3 linked regions of the Homo sapiens genome follow. The protein of the gene in region 1 interacts with the protein of each later gene in a biochemical or structural test. Each region holds a gene or a part of one and is shown on either strand. Other genes may lie near its edges. The genes, in order: SUCLG2, GPR143 and SUCLG1.

Region 1 (7,330 bases):
GTTATAAGTCAGGGGACTGGTGACCCTTTGTAGGGTGGAGGTAGTGACAGGCAGGAGCACCAGGGGGCCTCTGGGTTGTTGTTAAATGATCGTTTTCTTCATCTGTACCTAGTTAGCTGGGTTTGCATTCAGTTTATGAAAATTCATCAAGTTGTTCATTTGTAATTGTTCATTTTTCAGTATGTCTTATATTTCAGTTTAAAAAATTATGCCAATCAAAAACACACCATATCAAATAGGTCTCCTCTGATCATCCAGTCTAAACTACCCTGCTGTGAAGCAATCCATTCTCCATCCCATGACCCTGACTGATTTTCTTCACAGAATCTGTCATTGGCTGAAATCATTTTCATTATTGGTTATATGTGTACTGGCTCACTCTCTCCCACCTCCATTAAAATAAAGTATCACGTGGCCAAAGACTCTGCCTGCCTCATTCACCATCCCCAAACCCCAGGGCCTACAACAGTCCTGCCAAATGGTATGGGCTGAATAAAAACTATATGAAAAATAAGAAATGACTAAAGTGGACCCTTTAAGGACGTACTATCAATCAAAAGTCAAAACAGTAAAGCTAACAGCAAAGGTGAAAAAAAAAAAAAAACTTCAATGACACTAAGCATCAGGAATATGTGTCAAATGTTAAATTTAACCATAGGGAGGAGGTAGACAAAATGTCATTCTATGGGTATCTTTGAGAGACCAGTTAAAGTTATTTCTCTAAGCAGAAACTGGGTCTTTTATTTCTGTACAGACAACAGTTTTTCACAAGGCCTGGTGGTATAAAATAGGTCTGGGCCAAGAGTGGCAACAGATTTCTGAGACACTTGGTGAGGATTCTTAAGTATGATGAGAGAAGTGGGCCATGTTTAACTGCAATGTCTGCCACGGGCAAGGGACTATGGAAACGTAATATCAAATCAGTGTACATGAAACAGATCATAGGAAGCACCCAAGAATTTGAAAATAGCAATACTCACCATTTTTATGGACAATTCTAAGATGGTCATAAAGAAAAAAATAAAAATGTGTCAGTGGTGCTAATGACTTGGATGTTATATAGTTACTACTGGCATGCAGATTAATTTGCATGTTGATATAATATATTTTCATGAGGAAGTATATACTCACCAGGAAACAGCATGGTGTAACGGAAACGTAAAGGTAAGCCTTTACTCTGGAATGCCACAAACTCTCACTGTATCGTTGAATATGTCATTGAACTTCTTTAGGCCTCAATTTCTCTACCCATGAAATGAGCTGGCTGGACTAAATGATTGCTAATGTCCATTTCCAGTTCTTGGACACTGTGTACCTTTCTATCTTTAAAAAAACCTACTTTTACCTTCTAAGAATTTACAGAAAAACACATCATCCACAAATATGTAAATCACAGTAACCAGATGGGGCGTGCTAACAGATCTTTTTACCCAGTTTTCTTGACAAACCAAGAGTATCTCTCCCCAACCAGATTTTCTCCTGTGTTGCGTTCAGCCTCTTATTTCTTGGTTAGGGAAGTAGGCTTCACATATTTCAGCTAAACACTCTGCATTTTCAGTTTCTCTGTACAATTCATGAGTTTTCACTGCCCTGGGCCCCATGTTTCTCATCAATTCAAGTCTACACTCATGGTAAGCACCCTAGTTCTTGTTTTTTCTAACACTTAAATAATGAATAGGACTTCATCTCCTAGAGCTATTCTCCTTACTCTATTACAACAGTTATTAGTGAGTTTTAATTAGACAAAACTGCCATTCCTTTTGCTACCTCACTATACTGTCAAGCACCTATTAAGAATATTACAGTAGTAAGTATTAGCACCTTTTAAATTTACATTAACAATAACAGAGAAATGGGGAGGCAGGAAATGAAAGGAGAGGGGTAAAAATAGCTCACAGATGTCATAACCAAAGTTTAGAGGAACTCAAAAAATCATTAATCACTATTTTTTAAATTTTCTAAAAAACTATACTATGCACATCCTGGTTAAAATTGTATGAGTGATAATTTGCCTCTCATCAATTAAAAATGGGGAAATAGGCAAGGTCATTAACTCTGCTGTGGCTGAATCCCAGACTGTGCTTTCTTTAAAAGGGAAGAGAGATAGTCTACGGAGACTAACCAGTTCAGTGGTTGAGTGATTTCTACAAGAGTCATCACCAACTCAAAACTTTCCTGAAGTCCTTCTGACTATTTTAACGCTTGCCATCTGCAGAAGGTAAAAATCTGCTAGAGGCCAAGTTCCAATCGCTATCCAGCCCACCACTGACCCTCTTTGATTTCATTCTCCATCAACAAGGAGGACATGGACAGGGTCAATGGTCTAATGCGTTTTAGTGACAGCCCTGATTTTTCATTGGAAAGAGGAGAAAGATCGTTTCCCATTTTTCTCCTTGACCCACGGATTTGACCAACTCAGGCACATTAAAAGTCTGCAAAAGCAGGTAGCCTGCAGGAAGTTCACCCTAGGGGGTGAGTTCCTAGTTGGGCTGAAACGGGTTTCCAGGCATGTTTATCACGTGGTCTAAACGTGCTCAGGGTTAGTGCCAGAAGTTTGAAAAGCAGAATTAGTAGAGCTGACAATAAAACCTCAGGGCTCCAAAACCCGGTCCAAGAAACTTTTCTTAAACTTGCGTCCAGCGCCTGCTTCAGCGCCTTCGCCATGAGTCTGCGCGGGCAGACAGCGGAGACTCTAGTGCGTTGGGTCGCTCATACCCCGAGGCACCCGGGGCTGCCGCCGCGCCGCCCCTGCCCCACACTGGAGCGGGGTTCCCTGCTGCGCCTGGACCCGGCGCCGCGTCACCTCCCGAAGTGGGGCGCCCGAGGGGCCGCGCAGGGGGTCAGGCGGAGACCAAGAGTAGCAGGGGGCGAGGGAAGCCCGGGCAGGCCGGCGCCGCTGCTGGCGCCCGCAGCTCCTGCCCCCACGCTCACCTGGGACCCGGCCGCCAGGAAGCGGGGCCGCAGCGCTAGGGCTCGCAGAAGCTTCCCGGCCTGCGCTGCTACGGGGGACGCCATCTTAAACAGGAAACTCGGCACGGGGCAGTAGGGCGGGCGCGGGCAGGGGAAGGAGGCGGAGGAGGAGCAGCGGGAGGAGGGGTCAGAGGAGAAGCGGGCGCGGGGAGGAAAAGGAGGAGGAGGCAGAGGCGGTCTGGGCCGGGCCGGGCCTGACCCCTGCGTCCCGGGGGCACAGGCGTTCTTAAGGCTGCAGAGCCCTGGGTCCCCCACCCGGCCCCGGTTCACTTTGAGCGGTCCCAAGGCCTGAGGGCCTACTGTCCAGTCCCCAGGTTATCGTCCTGAGCAAAGACAGACCCCGAGCCCTGCGGTCTTGGGGCTCAAACAGTCCCTGGATGGCCAAACAAGCAAATATTCGCCATGGCAGTGGGTGCTGGAAGGGTGGCTCACGGAGCTGACGCCCTCCGCAGAGAACCGTGGTCTAGTCCTGCGGTCACGAGGCCTATCTGGGACAGTGGTGTTTGAGCTGAGACTTTAACGAATAGAGACAGGTGAGGTTCCTGCAGCCCAGGGCTTCAGGTGAGTCAAGGAGAGGCCATTGGAGGCTCTCCATCCCTTAAGGAGTTGTGGGTGTTTTGTTTTGTTCTATCCTTAACCTAAAATCAATGTAAAGCTGAGAGATGAAGCCGGGTGGGTCGGTTGGGGACTTGGAGAACTTCTCTGTCTAGCTAAATGATTGTAAATGCACCAATCAGCGCTCTGTGTCTAGCTAAAGGTTTGTAAATACACCAGCCAGCCCTCTGTGTCTAGCTAATCAGGTGGGGACTTGGAGAACTTTTCTGTTAGCTAAAGGATTGTAAATGCACCAATCAGTGCTCTGTGTCTGGCTAAAGGTTTGTAAACACACCAATCGGCACTCTGTAAAAACGCACCAATCAGCGCTCTGTGTCTAGCTAAACGTTTGTAAATGCACCAATCAGCACTCTTTAAAAAGGGACCAATCAGCACTCTGTAAAATGGACCAATTGGCACTCTGTAAAATGGACCAATCAGCAGGATGAGGGTGGGGCCAAATAAGGGAATAAAAGCTGGACACCGGCGCCAGTAGTGGCCCCTAGTTGGGGTCTCCTTCCAGGTTGTGGTTGCTTTGTGCTTTTGCTTTTTGCAGTAGCTCTTGCTGCTGTTCACTGTTTGGGTCCGCACTATCCTTATGAGCTATAACACTCACCACAAAGGTTTGCAGTTTCACTCCTGAGGTCAGGGAGACTGCGAACCCACTGGGAGGAATGAACAACTCCGTATGCCCCACCTTCGAGGGCTGTAACACTCACTGCAAAGGTCTGCAGCTTCATTCGTGAAGTCAGCGAGACCACGAACCCACAGGCAGGAACAAACAACTCCGGACGGGCCACCTTTAAGAGCTGTAACACTCACTGTGAAGTCTGCGGCTTCACTCCTGAAGTCAGCGAGACCACGAACCCACCGGAAGGAAGAAACCCCAGATACATTTGAACATCTGCAGGAACAAATTCTGGTCACGCCATCTTTACCGCGAGGGTCTGCAGTTTCATTCTGGAAGTCAGCGAGACGATTAAGAACCCACGGGAAGGAACCAATTCCGGACACAAAGCTATTGGAGGATTTTAAGCCCAGTAATCAGAGTGATAAAAGCAACATTCATTTGGAGCTGTGAACCCCAAATACCTGACACAGGTCTCAATCAATTTAAGAAGTTTATTTGGCCACAGTTAAGGACACGTGCCTGTGACACAGCCTCAGGAGGTCCTGACATGTGCCCAAGGTGTGGTGGAGGACACAGCTTGGTTTTATACATTTTAGGGAGATATGAGACATCAATATATGTAAAATGTACATTGGTTTGGTCCAGAAAAGCGAGACAACTGGAAGCAAGGAGGGGCTTCTAGGTTATGGGTAGATAAGACACAAAGGGTTGCATTCTTTTGGGTTTCTGATTGGCCTTTCCAAAGGAAGCAATCAGCTGTGCGTCTATCTCTGTGAGCAGAGGGATGACTTTGAATAGAATGGGAGGCAGGTTTGCCCTAAGCAGTTCCCACCTTAACTTTTCCCTTTACCTTAGTGATTTGGGAGTCCCAAGATTATTTCCCTTTCACAGAGTTTACGCGAGTCTAAGCAATGTGCATATAATAAAAACAACAGCAAAGTTACTGAATGTGTGCCAAGCATTAGACAAATATAAACTTGTTTAGTCTTCATAGCAAAGTTTTAAATGAGTAGAAGTGTACAATCCCCATTTTGCAGAAGAGAAAACTGAGGTGCACAGAGGTTAAGTAACTTGCCAGAGGTGGCAGGTCTGATAAGAGATGAGATTCACATCCCTTCCACCCACCCCCAAATTAAGCACTATTTTAGATTTTTTTTTTTAACCTTACTCATTCTTGAGCATATGATCATGAAAAAAGGTACAATGTGACATAAGTAGACAGCTGTTGCTACTAGCTTCTTTCCTAATCTCTCTCTTTGGAAAGTGGGGGAGCTGAGGATTTTTATTTTAATATAATTTCTAGCCCATTTCGAGACATAGTTTTACCCACTAGATGTAGCATCTTTTGATGATAAGGATGATGATGATTGTTTAAATCAATTATTGTCACGATGGTGGCAAAGTGGCAAGGTCTAACTCCATCCTACATTTATTAGTCTGTATTCTACTCAGAAAAACTGCACTCTTTCCATCATCTCCATTGATGAAAGAAAAACTTCAGCTAAATTAAATGTAAAGGAGTTTAATTGAGCAATGAACGGTTCGCCAATCGGGCAGCTCCCAGAATCACAGTGGATTCACAGAGACTCCAGCGCAGCCACGTGGTGGAAGAAGATTTATAGAGGAAAAAAGGGAAATGACTTACAGAAATCAGAAGTGAGGTACAGAACAGCTGGATTGGTTACAGCTTGGCATTTGCCTTACACAGTTTGAACACTCAGCAATGTATAAATGGTTAAAATATGGCCACTGGGATTGCCAAGACTTAGCTGTTGTTTTAGGTCCATACTTCTAAGTTAGGTTTTCAATCTTGTCTACCTATTAAGCTAGGTTGCAGTTCGTCCACAAGGACTCAAATATAGAAGTACCGAGTCCTCCTTAGGCCATATTTAGTTCACTGTAACACTATTCGTCGGTGAATTGTTTTATTCACTTGTATCACTGTGGACTCATGGATTCTTTTTTATTAAATGGCAAACCGATGCTCTTTCCTGATACATACACTCTGCTGCCTCTGTTTTCAGTCATTTAATCTTCACAGGAGCCCTGCAAATGGGGTCCTACTATTATTCCCATTTTGCCAGAGAGAAACTTGGCCACAGAGTTCCACATGACATTTACATGACTCTAAGGTCAAGTAACTTGCCAAGGGTGACACAGCTTGGGATCAAATTTCCCAAAGCTGGACTCCAATCACTCTTAGCACCCTCCTCTTGACAAAACTGGATTTGAGTTTCCATATTGTTCATCATTACCCCTACTGGGTCCGCCGGGATAGAGCAAAGACTTGCTAATGTTTGAGAGTGAACGTTTAAACTTGGTGAGAGCTTGTGAACATTTTGCCAAAAGGAGGAAGACCACCTATAGAATTAATCAAAGGCTGTTTATTCAGACGTTACTATGCTAAGGGAGTTGGCTACTATCACTTTCCTTCCAAATGAGACTAGAAGTCGTTTGAAAGAAGTGTTAGTTTTATAGAGATAAAGGAGAGACTCTTAAGACTGTCTTTGATTGATGAGTGTTCTTTTAAGATGCGATTATTCTATTATGGGGGGATTTTTGAAAGTGGAGTCGGGAGAGGCTTTCTGATTGTCATCCAAGTACATTTGGTATTCTTTGATTTGTTTACTATCTACTGGTGCGTAACTTGGGGTCTTTCCAGGGTTAGCAGCCTCCTAAGAGTTTTCCTGTCTGAATTGGAAGACTGTCTCATCCTTGGTTCTGGGGTCCAAATCTTTCATCAGCAATTCCTCAGTGTCTTTACTCGTATTATCTCATTCTGCCTTCTCTGCAGGAAGGTGGTAGGGGAGAAGGGACAGAAGGAAGAAAGAGAACCATTTATGTAGCACCTCCAGTGTCTAGCACTGGACTTTGATTAGAAAAAGTAATCAATAAACATATGTGGAATGAATTGCATTATAGAGTTCCTCGTAAGATTTCTCCCTATTTCATACTCCCCGCTTCCACCCTCCAACCTCCCCCAAATAGGAATCTCTTTGAGAACAGGGAATCTAGATTCTACCAGAGTTCTGCACTGTGCTTTCCTGGAACAAGCATTAAGTTTTCAGCCAAACTGGATTGGATTCAAATCTGACCTCCACCCCCTTGAACACCTGTGACTAGGAAAATACCTGG
Region 2 (7,297 bases), on another chromosome or scaffold:
AGTAAGGGGTCCCGATCACCCAGCCTTTTCCTGACTTCTGCTTATTTGCTCGCAACCTCATCCACTTCCCTTCTAAAGGCTAAAGGATATGCAAGTATTATTCACTAACCCTCAAAAGATGTTTGGGTACACCTTACTTTTTTAGAGACAGGGTCTTGGCTGTCACCCAGGCTGGATCGTAGCTCACTCTAGCCTGGAATTCCTGGGCTCAAATGGTCCTCCTGCCTCAGCCTGGTGAGTAGCTGGGACCACATGTGCATCCCACCATGACGGGCCTTTTTTTTGTTGTTTTTTTTTTCTTGGGGGTAGAGCCTGGGTCTCGTTACGTTGCCCAGGCTAGTCTTGAACTCCTGGGTTCAAGCAATCCGTCCACCACAGCCTCCTGAGTAGTTAGGATTACAGGCGTGAGCCACCGCACCTTTAGGAGGCCGAAGTAGGAGGATCGCTTGAGCCTAGAAGTTTGACCAGCCTGGGCAAGATGGTGAGACTCCAGCTCTGAAAAAATAATGCAAAAATTAGCCAGTGTGGTGATGCATGCCTGTAGTTCCAGCTGCTCAGGAGGCTGAGGTAGGAGGATCCCTTGAGCCTAGAAGTTCGAGGCTGCAGTGAGCTATGATCATGCCAGCACACTCCAACCTGGGCAACAGAGTGAGACCCTGTCTCAAAAATAAAGTGATAATGATATTGGGGTTGCAAATGTTTAGAATTATTATGTTTTAGGGCTCTCTCTGAGATCTGAATGGGCAGGATGATGGAGCCTGAGATTGGCTTCACATTAATCCAGTGAGGAGGGTGAAGAGGGGAGCAGATGAGCCGGGTACCCGTACCTCACGAATCCCACGTACAGGGATTCACTGTAAGTGTTTCTATTATAGACTGCATTTACGCATGGTGGAAATGTTCCAAAAAGCTAAACAGAATGGCCAAATCTAGCTGAGAGGTCTGTATAAAGTGTCACATAATAGTTTAAAGCAGATGTTGGCAAACTCATTCTTAATATTTTTGGCTTTGGGAGCCATACTTTCTCAGTCCAATATTCACCCTGCCCTTGTAGGGTAAAGGCAGCCATGAATAATTCACAAATGCACATGAACAACATAGCTGCGTTCCCATCAAACTTTATTTGTAGACATTAACATTTAAATTTCAGTAATAGTCACATGCCAGGAAATATTTTTTAATTTTGATTTTTAAAAACATTTTAGGGCTGGGTGAGGTGGCTCACGCCTGTAATCCTAACACTTTACGATGCCAAGGGTGGTGATCTTTTAATTAAGCCCAGGAGTTGGAGACCAGCCTGGGCAACATAGTGAGACCCCACATATATTTACCCTAGCATGGTGGCGTGTGGCTGTAGTCCCAGCTACTCGGGTAGCTGAGGTGGGAGGATCGCTTGAACCCAGGAGGTCGAGGCTGCAGTGAGCTGTGATTGTGACACTGCACTCAACCTGGGCAAGAGGGTGAGACCCTGTCTCAAAAAACAAAATCATTAATTTTTTAAAAAGTAGGATGTAAAACCATTCTTAGCTCGTGGACCCTAGAAAACGGGCAGGATTTGGTCTGAGGGCTGCAGTTTGCGCACCTGTGGTGTAAAAACCATACCCAAAAAGCCTGGATAGGGAAGGGATTTCAGCTTACAAAATACTCGAGAGAATATATAGTGCACAATAGAAAAGAATTTACACACGCGCACACACACACACACACACACACACACACACACACACACAGAGCGAGACAGAGAGAAGTTAATTGTTAGTCTCTCCCTGGTGCAGTTGGGCAAAAATGAGGAAATCTTTTCTGGTCTGGGTTTTGCTTAACTGCGCCATCTGAAGTTTCCATATAACAAACACAATAAACGGATTTTTTAAAACCCAACGTCCCTTGGATGGGAATTTTACCGACCATGTGTTTGCAAAACTACCTAGTCGGCCGGGCGCGGTGGCTTACGCCTGTAATCCCAGCACTTTGGGAGGCCGAGGCGGGTGGATTACCTGAGGTCAGGAGTTCGAGAGCAGCCTGGCCAACATGGTGAAACTCCGTCTCTACTAAAAATACAAAAATTAGTCGGGCATGGTGGCGCGCGCCTCCCCCAGCTACTCGGGAGGCTGAGGCAAGAGAATCCCTTGAACCCGGGAGGTGGAGGTTGCAGTGAGCCGAGATTGCGCCACTGCACTTCAGTCTGGGCGACAGAGCAAGACTCCGTCTCAAAAAAAAAAAAAAAAATTACCTAGTTGTCCCATCCGGTCCCTAGGGAACAGCCTCCGCTTTCTCTTTTCTCTGTGGTTCAAGTGTTAAGACGGCCAGCCCAACCCGCTAGCCGTGCGCCATCACCCGGGCACCGATCAAGTTCCAACCCGAGTGGATCGAGTTCCAACCTGCGGGCCATGCGCCCTCACCCGGGCATCGATCCGGTCTCAACCTGCGGGCCACGCACTCTCACCCGGGGATTGAGCAGGTCCCAACCCCAGGGCCTCACGCCCTCACCCCAGCACTGAGCAGGTCCCAACCCGCGGGCCTCAAGCCCTCAGCCGGGGACCGAGCAGGTCCCAACCAGCCAGCTACGCGCCCTCAGCCCTGCACCGGGCAGGTTCCAACCCGCGGGCCTCTCGTCCTCACTCCATCACGGAACAGGTCCAAATCCACAGGCCGTGCGCCCTTATCCGGGCACCAGTCGGGTCTCAACCTGCGGGCCACGCGCCCTCACCCAGGCGCTGATCAGATTCCAACCCGCGGGCCGCGCGCGCCCTTACCCAGGCAGCCGAGAAGGTCGCAGGCAGCGGCAGCGCGCAGGATGCGGACCGAGGCCGGCGGGGACGTCGCGGGGGACCCGGGGCCCGCGGGCCGGCGGCCGGGCAGCAGCTGCAGAAGGCCCAGCGCCAAGCGGAGCCCGCCGCTGCCCAGGCAGAGCGCGTGGAAGGCCCGCGGCTGGAAGCTCAGCACGAGCTGCGTGGCTGCGTCCCGCGTGGGGCAGCAGAAGGTCCCTAGGCGCGGGGAGGCCATGGGCTGTGTTCGCGGACGCGGCTCGGGTGTGCCAGGACCCCGCCGGCCTGCCTGGGTCATGTGCTGGGCGGGCTGGGGGCGGCATCATGTGCCCTGGGCCTCTCCCCCACCCCAACCCCCAGCGCCTGCAGTAGAGCCAGGCTCGGTGGGGGCCGAGAGCACTGGGCTAACGCCACGAGGCCTCACGAGGTGATGCTTGGGCGGGCGGAGGAGGAGGACAGAGAGAGGGAGGGCTGAGAGGAGAGGAAGAGGGAGGAGGAGGAGGGAAGTGGAAGGAGAAGCAGAAAGGTTGGGAAGGTTACCTTTCTCCCCATTCACCAAGCCTTCCTGGTGGTTTCTCTGCCACCTAGAGCGCCAAACCTGCCATCTTTACTGGTCTTCTAGAGAAACAGGCCTCGTGGACTAGATCTTTCCTATTTGGGACTCTGACATCCTGATTTTGATGCCTTTAAGGCGCCAGAACATGTTCATAAACTGTGACTGATCCCTGTAACTGCTTTTTTCCTAAGTAGAGATGGTTGTCCAATTAGTGCTTTTTTTTATGGCCTCTCTCATTCATGGATATAATCCCACAGAGGCAGGATTTTCGTTTACAATTAATGAATGAAACAAACAGATCAATGTTAAAGAAAGAGCAGTAGCTCACACCTGTAATCCCAGCACCTTGGGAGGCCGAGGCAGGCAGATCGCTTGAGCTCAAGAGTTGGAGACCAGCGTGGGCAACATGGCGAAACCCCACCTCTATTAAAAATACAAACATTAGCCCGGTGTGGTGGCCCAGGCCTGTGATCCAAGCTACTCGGCAGGCTGAGGTGGGAGGATCGCTTGAGCCCAGGAGGTGGAGTTTGCAGTGAGCCAAGATAGTGCCACTGCACTCCAGCCTGAGCGATAGAGCCAGACCTTGTATCAAAAAACGAAACAAAACAAAAATTAGCTGGATGTGGTGGGGCGTGCTTGTAGCCCTAGCTTCTGGGGAGGCTGAGGTGGGAGGATCACTTGAGCCCGGCAAGTGGAGGTTGCAGTGAGCAGAGATTACACCACTGCACTCCAGCCTGAGCAATGGAGTGAGACCCTATCTCTCTCTCTCACACACACACACACACACACACACACACACACACACACACACAGAATTAAGTTTAAAATTTAAAAACATTAAAAAAATAAAGGGAAAAGTACTCAGCATAAGTACACACAGACACATTTTGCACCTTAACTTTCAGTTCTATTTATTTGGATTTTTCTTAACTGCGTTAATTTTTCTATGTTTTCTCATACATTGAAAATCTTGCTTTATTCTATACATGTAAGTTTCCAAGTAATATTGTGTTAATGATTACAGTAAGCATACTAAGATTTTTTTTTTTAAGTTCTTCAAGGCTGAAAATAGAAGTGCTCCTTCTAGATTATGGCCTTTATTTTAAAAAAAGAAAAGAAAAAAAAATCCAGCTCCATCATATTTATCATCTTCAACAAACCTCATTGGCTCTTTGTGACCACACAAGAGACACCCTTCCTCCTCTCTCCTGGTAAAATGGGCCCCTCTCTGGGTTTTTTTCAAGCAACCAAGGTGCAGGTGTCCCCATTGTGTTCATGGACTTTCCTCACTTGTTCTCCCCACCAGCTTTGCGGTTTTAAGGAAGGCATGATCTGTGCCGTCTTCCTCTAGGGATAGCAGGACTGGCCTTCCCTTGGGACCCCACAGAAGGCAGGCGGGAGGCTCCACTGCCAGACAGGAAGCGGAGCCTTATTTAACAACAATGAGGTGCAAACTCCACCACTTCAAAAGAGTCCAGATCTGGCACGTCTATAAACGCAGCCTGTTCACTCCACAGCTGCCTTCCTAGAAGTCAGAACAGACTGACATCTTCAGAAAGCTTAACAGCTCTGCTGGATTACACACTCCATTGTAAAAACAGTCAGAAGCACCATAGAACTACTCCCCAAGCATTAATGTTTAAAAGCTTGAATTCTAATATCTAATTTGGACAGTGGCTCTCTTTCCTTCTGCCTTGGTAAGCAGAGTTGCTTCTGGAGGTTAGTGTAATGGAAAGTGCTTTAAAAGATAAAAATGAAGAGTGTCTGTACATTTGCCTGAAGGTTGAGGGCCAGTGGGCCAGGCAAAGGGGTCCCTGCATTTGAGTCACTGTTTCATGCCCCAGAAAACACACTCCGCCTCTCTGCTTCCTACGTGATAACCTGGGAGTACTCTCCAGGGGGCTCTGGCTGACTCTGGTGCCCACTACTCAAGCTCAGTAGTCAGAATCTCATCAGTGAGAAAATGGATATGAATGCAGATTCCTAGGGCCATGGCACAGATGACAATGGTAAAGATGAGCCTCAGAGTAAAGGTGCAGAAGCATGAGTGTAAGACTAAATTTAAAACCCTGTCATCAAAGTGAGAGGGAACTAGAAATTGGTATGAGAGGCTGGGCCCAGTGGCTCACACCTGTAATCTCAGCACTTAAGGAGGCTGAGGCAGGAGGATTACTTGAGCCCAAGAGTTTGAGACCATCCTGGGCAACATAGTGAGAGCCCATCTCTAGCGTCTTCCTCTAGGAGCAGCATCTTTTGAAGTGGTGGAGTTTGCAGCTCATTGTTGTTAAATAAGGCTCTGCTTCCTGTCTGGCAGTGGAGCCTCCTGCCTGCCTTCTGTGGGGTCCCAAGGGAAGGCCAGTCCTGCTGTCCCTAGAGGAAGACGACACATCTCAAATTAGCAGAGCGTGCTGCTGCGCACCTGTAGTTGCAGCTACTGGGGAGGATGAGGTGGGAGGATCACTTGAGCCCAGGAGTTTGAGGTTGCAGTGAGCTGTGATTGCACCACCAAACTCCAGCTTGGGTGAACTGAGATGACAAACTTTTTTTTTTTTTTTCCTTTGAGACAGAGTCTTGCTCCATTGCCCAGGCTGGAGTGCAGTGGCGTGATCTCAGCTCACTGCAATCTCTGCCTCCTGGGTTCAAGTGATTCTCATGCCTCAGCCTCCTGAGCAGCTGGGACCACAGGCACATGCCATCACACTCAGCTAATTTTTTGTCTTTTTAGTAGAGATAGGTTTCGTCATGTTGGCCAGGCTGGTCTTGAACTCCTGGCCTCAAGTGATCCACCCGCTTTGGCCTCTCAAAGTGCTGGGATTACAGGCATGAGCCATCATGCCTGGCCTGACAAAACTTTTCATGAAACAGTACAACTACAAATCTGAGAAAAGTGAAGCAAATACACACGCACACACTTGGGAGGCAGAAACATCTGGAAGTTTCGTAGATATGGGAGATACAGGGATGGCGGTGCTGAATATGAACTTTGAGGTATGTGTGCAGAAACAATCGGTCTTTGAGTACATGAAGGTACATCTGTTTTTGCATGAACCCTTCCTCCGTTTTTCCCTCCTTCCCAGTTTAGCACCTGAATTCGCTCTCCATTTTCACAGTTTGGGCTGCCTGGGGCATCTGTTCCCTGGAAATGCTCCATCATCTTGGCTTTCTCTCATTCCACAATCCACCATTTACCCACCATTCCCACTTGATCAGATGCACTTGATCAACTGCTGGAAGACGGTTCCTGAGTTTCTCTCCCAGGCAGTTTATTTTTCATGGTGAGTCCCCTGACATCGAGATGTCTCAACCAAAAGAATGGGGTTTATGGTGAGACTCAGATATCCCTTAGAATCCAGTAGAGGAGGTGGCTAGGGGCAGATGGATGGCAGAAACAGCCTAAGTAAGGAGACTGCCATTCACAATAATTTGAATTTAAATAATAAATAAGATTTGTTTATTTATTTATTGACATGGAGTCTCACTATATCATCCAGGCTGGAGTGCAGTGGTGCGATCTCAGCTCACTGCAACCTCTGCCTCCCGGGTTCAAGTGATTCTCCTGCCTCAGGCTCCCAAGTAGCTGGGATTACAGGCGCCTGCCACCACACCTGGCTATTTTTTGTATTTAGAGTACAGACGGCGTTTTGCCAAGTTGTCCAGGCTGGTCTCGAACTCCTGACCTCAGGTGATCCGCCCGCCTCAGCCTCCCAAAGTGCGGGGATTGCAGGCGTGAGTCACTGCGCCCAGCCTAATAAATAAGATTTAAATAATAAAATAATTTATGGAGTGTAGGCAGGCACTATGCTTTGAATATTACATTCATTATCTCATTTAATATTCAGAATGAGCCTTCCAAGTGGGTTTTACTGATACTTAAATTGATATAGACAAAACATGGCCAGGTGCAGTGGCTTATGTCTGTAATCCCAGTACTTTGGGAGGCCAAGGTGGGAGCATTGTTTGAGCCCAGGAGTTCAAG
Region 3 (7,108 bases), on another chromosome or scaffold:
TGCAGTATCCTTTCCGCCAGCATGTACCATGTGATAACTTAAGCTTTTTTCGAAGCTCTGATTTTTTTTTGGCAGTCTTAGTGATGTGTTGAGAAGGTGACTATCCTGCTCAAAGGTGTTGCCTTCCTTTTCCCCGTGTTTGCCAAGTGCGTAGGCCTGTTTTTCGAATCAGAGATGCATTTAAAGTGTAGTTTGGAAAATGAGATCCTCAACAGTGATGTTGTGGATATTAGCATCTGTTGCCATTGCATGTAATAACCAAATCTTTATTTCAGAAATACAAAATAGCCTTGATTCAGATGTACCAGTGTAGCCATGAGAAAGTGATTTGATTTTCTGACATCAAATTTGTTTCTCCATAGAAATGTAATTGGGAATATTAAAAATAATTTAAGTACAGGGCAACAATTTCATTTCATCAGGGGACTGGCATACCATAGACCCACATTTTTTTTTTTTTTTTTTGTTTTGAGACGGAGTCTTGCTCTGTCGCCCAGGCTGGAGTGCAGTGGCGTGATCTCTGCTCACTGCAAGCTCCGCCTCCCAGGTTCAAGCCGTTCTCCTGCCTCAGCCTCCCCAGTAGCTGGGACTACAGGCACCCGCCACCACACCTGGCTAATTTTTTTGTATTTTTAGTAGAGATGGGGTTTCACTGTGTTAGCCAGGATGGTCTCGATCTCCTGACATTGTGATCCGCCCACCTCAGCCTCCCAAAGTGCTGGGATTACAGGCGTGATAGACCCACATTTTTTTACATTATAACATTTCTTACATTAGGTTGTGTCTTATTACTGATATATATGTTTTTTTTGAGACAGAGTTTTGCTCTTATTGCTCAGGCTGGAGTGCAATGGCACAATCTCAGCTCACCGCATCCTCTGCCTCCTGGGCTCAAGCCATTCTCCTGCCTCAGCCTCCCGACTAGCTGGGATTACAGGCATGTGCCACCATGTCCGGCTAATTTTGTATTTTTAGTAGAGACGGGGTTTCTCCATGTTGGTCAGGCTGGTCTCAAACTCCTGACCTCAGGTGATCCGCCCGCCTCATTTTTTCTTTTTTACCAGTAATTAATAGTACTTCTTAAAAATCAATGGTGTTTTATATTTGATGAAATATGGTACTTACAGCTTATTAAACTTCACTCGTAAGTCAATATTAAATGAATATATAATTTAACATTTGAATAGTGGGTTGTTTGGAGTTTAGGGGTAAGTGGCTGCTAGCTACTCTGCTGTATTATAAGGTCCTGTAGGTGTAGACTGCAGTAGCCTGTGTCTTACATATGCATAATACATATGGTTAATAAGTGTACATTTGTTAAATTCATGAGTACGTGCACGAATAAATGTTTACCAGGGACACAGTTTGAGAGGTGAGTTGAAGGAGTATTGAGTATTTCATGAATAGAGCCTTGGGTTATTGGTTAGGAGCATGGTACTGGTCATACAAGGCCCATGGTTTGAGTCTCTCCTGGGCAGGTGCTCTTTGACCATAGATTGCATCATTCATCCCACCAGCCATTTTATAAATGATGTGTTACTATCTGTGGTAAAGAGGACCAGTATGTGGCTGACAGGTACAAATCTATCACCCCTGTTGAAAACACATCTCTCTCAGATTACTCAGCCTCTTTCCTTCATTGTCTTTATTACAGTTTGTACTGTTGGTAGTTTTGTTTTTTTTTGTGCAATGTTTAGCTCTTTTACAGGGCAGGAAACTTCATGTGGGTAGGGCCTGAGCCTGTCTTGTTCACCTGTGAATCCCTAGCACCTGACAGATAGCCTGTCACAGTCAACATCTCAAAGCAGTTTGGTCTGCTCATTCTGCATCGGTAATAATAACGCTAATAAAAAGCTCTTAGGGATATAACACTTGCTGTATCTGTTTTAAATGCTTTATATATTACTAACTCATTTAATTCTCACATCAGCCTATGAAGGAGATACTATTATTGTCCGTGTTTTACAGTGAGGGCTGCGCCTTTACAAATGTATTATATGTTAAAAACTTAGAGGTATATTTGTGCATACTGCACATTATATGCAGACATGGATTAGTATGTTTATAAATAAACATATAAGATGTACACAAGGACATGTAGAAAACATTTTTGGCTAGACTTATTTGATTTTAAAATATGAACTATTTTTTCTCTCTTTTTAGGGATAGATTTGCCTTTGTGTTCATGTAGGGTTGTAAACCCAGTTTTGGGAGTGTACCAGAGACTGTGCTACCTGGTGCCAATTTAAGGAGTAATTTCATATTAATATCACAGCCTCCCAGGGGCAGCTGTTATTCCACTTCTAGATGGGAAGACTAAGGCTAAGGGAGATCAAAAGGTATGCTCTGGGTTACATGGCTGCTGGAAGGCAGAGCATAAACTCAAGACCAGGCCTGTCTGATTCCTGCGATGATGTTCTCAGCTGCTCCTGGGACGCAGTCCCAAGGTTAAGCTGGACAATTTCTAAGAATCTGGAAAGAAGGAGGTGGCCTAGGATGTGGCAACTACAGCATTCGCCATCAGAAATTTTTCCTGGTGGCCAACCTCACCTTTCCTGCTCTAATATTTAATTTAAAATACTTATTTTCGGCTGGGCATGGTGGCTCCTGCCTGTAATCCCAGCACTTTGGGAGGCCAAGGCAGGCGGATCACTTGAGGTCAGGAGTTTGAGACCAGCCTGGCCAACATGGTGAAACCCCGTCTCTACTAAAAGTACAAAAAAATTAGCTGGGTGTAGTGATGTGGGCCTATAGTCCCAGATACTCAGGAGGCTGAGGCAGGAGAATTGCTTGAACCCGAGAGGTGGAGGTTGCAGTGAGCCGGGATCGTGCCACTGCACTCCAGCCTGGGCTGCAGAGTAAAACAACGTCTCAAAAAAAATAATAATAATACTTATTTTCTTCTTATTAGTAAAGCTAGGCATCTCATCATATATGGATTTGCAGTTTGTCATCCATTGTGTTTCTTGTTCATGGCCTTTATCAGTTTTTCTCTTAGGCTTTGGGCTCCACTTTTTGTTGGCTCTTCATGTTGCTCACGTTAATTCCTTGTCTGTTAAATGTTAGGAAAACACTCCCCTGGTCTGTCATTGCCTTTAACTCTGCCTATGGTGTGTTTCACTCTGTCTGAATGCTTGCTTTTTTCATGTAGGTAAAGATTCAATTTGTATTATTGCTTTTGGGTTTTATTTATTTAAAAAAATGTCAGCATGGCGTTTGTACTAGATTAATGTAGCTTTGGGGACCGCCAGAAGCATTTTAGGGCCGAACTTCCATGCAGTCTCTATATGAATTTTAGGGAAACCTATGATCTTTATATGTACAAAAATAGATATAGGGTTCTTTTCCCTCTTTGCTGATACGTGGGAGTTCAAGATTGACTTTTTCCAACTCACCGAAAAAGAGACGAACCTTATGGTGTTTAGCTTGGTAGAAGTGTTTCTTTTGGAGACCCTGTTTCTTGTCCTGGAATTCAGTGAAATGTTTCCCATAGACCTACTGTGTGTAAGGCACTGACCATATACCATAGGAGACAAGATGAGTAAGACATGGTCCTGACACTCATGGAGTTTACAGTTAGCAGTGGGAAAAGTATTTAGATGGTACTTGAAATAGTCTTGAAATAAATTTAAGCTTAGATAATTTCACTTAAAAATAACATGATGAAAAGAGTAAGAATATGTGTGCACTCAGTAATGTAGTGTGTGATGGTGTTTATTGTATACCCACATGAAAGCGTTTGTAGCTTCTATTCTTCTTAATCTCAGATCCCTTTTAAAGTCCCCCAGTATACTCATAAATCATGTATATCGTGTGAAGATATAGGAATTCTTGACTGTGTAATGTTTTATTTAAATGTTAATTTATATGGATCAATGTAAGTGAAATTCTCAGAAAGTTGAGGACATTAAATCTTTAATTGAAAGGTAAGAGATATTTGCAAGATGGTTTGGCCACCAATGTATGCCTTGTGTTCTAAATTTCACTTTAGGAAGTCACTTACTGTAGTAATTTGGTGGCTTTGTCACCCTCCCCACCTCTTACACATTCATAGACTTCTCTACCTTGAATAGGTGTGGGGAGTTTATCCACCCCAAATGCCCAAGGCTTTTTTTTTTTTTTATTATAGTACTTCACACACCACGCAGTTATGGCCCACTTTTATATGAGTTCAGATAGATTGTGAATTATTTGAGGGCTGAGACACTGTCATTCATCACTTTATCCTTGACACCTGACATTATGGCTTGGTATGGGTGCTCCTCAAATGTTGATTGAATCAATGAACGAACTCACATTTCAGTACCAGATGATAACCTTGTCTGGCATCATACAGGTTTATTGTCAGGATGGAATGTGATCAGGAATTTCACTTCCTTGCCATTGAATACATTTCTTGGATTTGCCTGTAAGACGATAATAGTCTGTTAGTTCCAGCTTATCTAGAAGTGGGTCTGTATGAGCCCAGGCCTGGTGTGTAGATGGGGAGATCACACATGCATGAGCGCACACACATCTACACCTGTGCATTAGAGGTTTCCCAAGATTTAGTTAATTAGATGCTGCAGGCTCTCAGGGGCATTGCACAGGCTGAGTAACACTAAAAGGCTAGGGGATTGGGAGGTAAGCTGCTGTTTATCACACTTCTGATACACTTTTTATGAGCACCAAAGATCTGATGTTGTAAAATCTTGAGCTCCATAGAATTGATCCAGGAGATCTGGAGTTACTACGAGAAAGCAGAGATCTTCGTTGGTCTGTTATTGGAGCTGTGCTTTAGGGACACAGACAGACCTGCCTTTTCTCAGGGTGACTTCTGCTCCTGTGGAAGGAGAAGTGAATTGTCTGATCTTTGTTAAGTTAGTGAGTATAAGAGTACTTGTGCAGAACCAAACTTTACCTACAAAAAGTATTTTATGTTAACAAGTAGGGACTCCAGATATCCTGATCATAACATCTGATCTTATAATCAAATCTTCTACCTTCTGGTCTGAAAACATATGGTATGATATGATATGATATGATATGAGCATTTGTTGAAGATGCAATGGGAGGGACTGGTAAAGCCAATTCCACTAGTCAGAAATTGTAGCAGGGTAGGAAAGGGTGTAGCTTCTACACAAATACCATGGTTGTAGGTGTTCAGCTGGGAGAAGTGGAAGCCAAGGGCAAGAATGGGTCTCGAATGCAGCACTGGCAAGGGTGGGCTGTGCTGCACAGCTCAGTAGGGACAGGGTCTCAGGCCATAAATCCCTGCTGTGTCCACTGGCCTAGAGTCAGATGCTTAGCTGTGACTGATGTGCCAGAACTTGACCTGCAAAGCCCATGGCCCCTTGTTGAGCACAGTCTAGTATGAGAAAGCTGCCTGTTACGTAGCAGTTCTTTGTGTGTACCAAATATTATCCAGGTGGTAAGGGCTAAATCTGGGCCTGTCTTCTCCCTAGAGGTGTAAGGGATTCCATATACTTCCTCCAGAAGCAGATGTTGTTGCTCTTTCAGTTATGTAATGTGAGGTCAGGACTTAGGTGGGTATGAGGCAGTGATTTAAGGCAGAAAGCATGGAGTGGACTCTGGGCAAATATGTGACAGGTGTTCTTTTTTTGTTGTTCAATAGAGATTACTCCTTATGTTCTTTTCTTGGGCTAGCTTCATGGGCTACCACAATGATAGGTAGAAGGCCTGGCTACTTTGAAAGGGCCAGGGATGGGCCACAGAGAAGTCAGGTTGTTAGTATTAATGGACATTTAGAAGGTAGCCCAAAATTTTAAGTCATCTATGTTCCTCCTACTGTGTTTTGAAATGTGGGGAGCTGGTTGTAGTAACTATTTAGATTTCTCAATTTCTCTTTTAGGTAGGTTGCTGCAATAACCTAGGGTTTTTTTTTTTTTTTTTTCCTAACAAGCTTTTTCCTGTCTTGTCTACTTTCCTATTTGTTTTATTTTCCCTGTGTCTTTTATACATGAGTTCATATCAGAAGAGATTAAGTGATTTTGTATTATATTTTAGATAAGTTTTATCCTATGACTTAACATTTAATATGTTGTTCTTACTAGAGAATGAGTTGCTGAGTGATTTTTACTTGTATTCCTGACAAAGTTTGCCTCTTAGCTTACCTATTTAAAGGTATTAGGCTTTAAAAATTTGGGTCAAGTGGGGAAACGTGGCTGTTTAGTAAACATTGTTAATAGGGGTGACATTTTGTTTTCAGTCCCTGGATTTAATTTTAACCATTTATCTTTGAGCCCCAGTTTTTTTCTAGGAAATAAAAATGATAAACATTGCTTTTTTTTCCCTCAGTTCAGGAAAAAACTACAAGATCGTGGTTCTTGATAAAGAGAGGATCCTGGAGAATGGAACAATGTCTTGTCTGTTTTTCTTATTTCTGTGGTCACTGTGTCTTATTTAAAAGGTGGCATTTAGGTTTGCCGTGATCACAGGATAGCGCGTGCATTAAAGAATTTTTTTTTTGTGATCAAGTTGAATTATTGTTCAAAAGTTTAGAAAAATTATAATGTGTCTTTTTTTTTTTTTTTTTTTTTTTTTAACCTCTTAGTGCCGCAGAATGGAATTCGGCATTGTTCCTACACAGCTTCTCGGCAACATCTCTATGTTGATAAAAATACAAAGATTATTTGCCAGGGTTTCACTGGCAAACAGGTATGTATATCTAGATTTTTATTTTCAAATGTAGACTAGAGATATAACAAATTAACTATTTTTTTATTTTTAATATCTCAAAAATAACACATGATTGTTGCAGAAAAATATACTGTACAGCAATGGGGTTGTATCTCAGGAGGAGGTTAGTTGCTATTGTCAGCCTATAACATAAAAATTGTGTTTAAACTTACCTTGCAAAGGAGTATATTGTATGCTTACTAGGAGTATATTGTTTTGGAGGCCCATACACTTTCTTTCAGCAAATACAACACTAATGATTTTCCTCCAGTGTTGAAAGAGATCACCGTTTCTTTGACTAAGCACTAGGTCAACTAGATTCTTGTGTTTAGGTTTTGTACAAACAGACAAAAAACCGTATTGTTAAACACAGAATCCATATTCAGTGTGGAGAAATGCTCAAACCCAGAGAGGCTCATGGATACTGAGA

The links.
Region 2: the proteins of SUCLG2 (region 1) and GPR143 form a complex in vitro, tested with the Homo sapiens proteins (one study listed by BioGRID).
Region 3: the proteins of SUCLG2 (region 1) and SUCLG1 are reported together in a solved structure, tested with the Homo sapiens proteins (one study listed by IntAct).

What each region holds. Positions count from the first base shown.
Region 1 is NC_000003.12:67,651,572-67,658,901, forward strand, and holds the start of SUCLG2 (succinate--CoA ligase [GDP-forming] subunit beta, mitochondrial isoform 2 precursor), read right to left. Parts: upstream 3,042-7,330; 5' UTR 3,016-3,041; coding exon 2,932-3,015; intron 1-2,931. UniProt on the Homo sapiens protein: GTP-specific succinyl-CoA synthetase functions in the citric acid cycle (TCA), coupling the hydrolysis of succinyl-CoA to the synthesis of GTP and thus represents the only step of substrate-level phosphorylation in the TCA.
Region 2 is NC_000023.11:9,762,815-9,770,111, forward strand, and holds the start of GPR143 (G-protein coupled receptor 143), read right to left. Parts: upstream 3,034-7,297; 5' UTR 3,004-3,033; coding exon 2,754-3,003; intron 1-2,753. UniProt on the Homo sapiens protein: Receptor for tyrosine, L-DOPA and dopamine.
Region 3 is NC_000002.12:84,449,198-84,456,305, reverse strand, and holds part of SUCLG1 (succinate--CoA ligase [ADP/GDP-forming] subunit alpha, mitochondrial precursor), read left to right. Parts: intron 1-6,553; coding exon 6,554-6,657; intron 6,658-7,108. UniProt on the Homo sapiens protein: Succinyl-CoA synthetase functions in the citric acid cycle (TCA), coupling the hydrolysis of succinyl-CoA to the synthesis of either ATP or GTP and thus represents the only step of substrate-level phosphorylation in the TCA.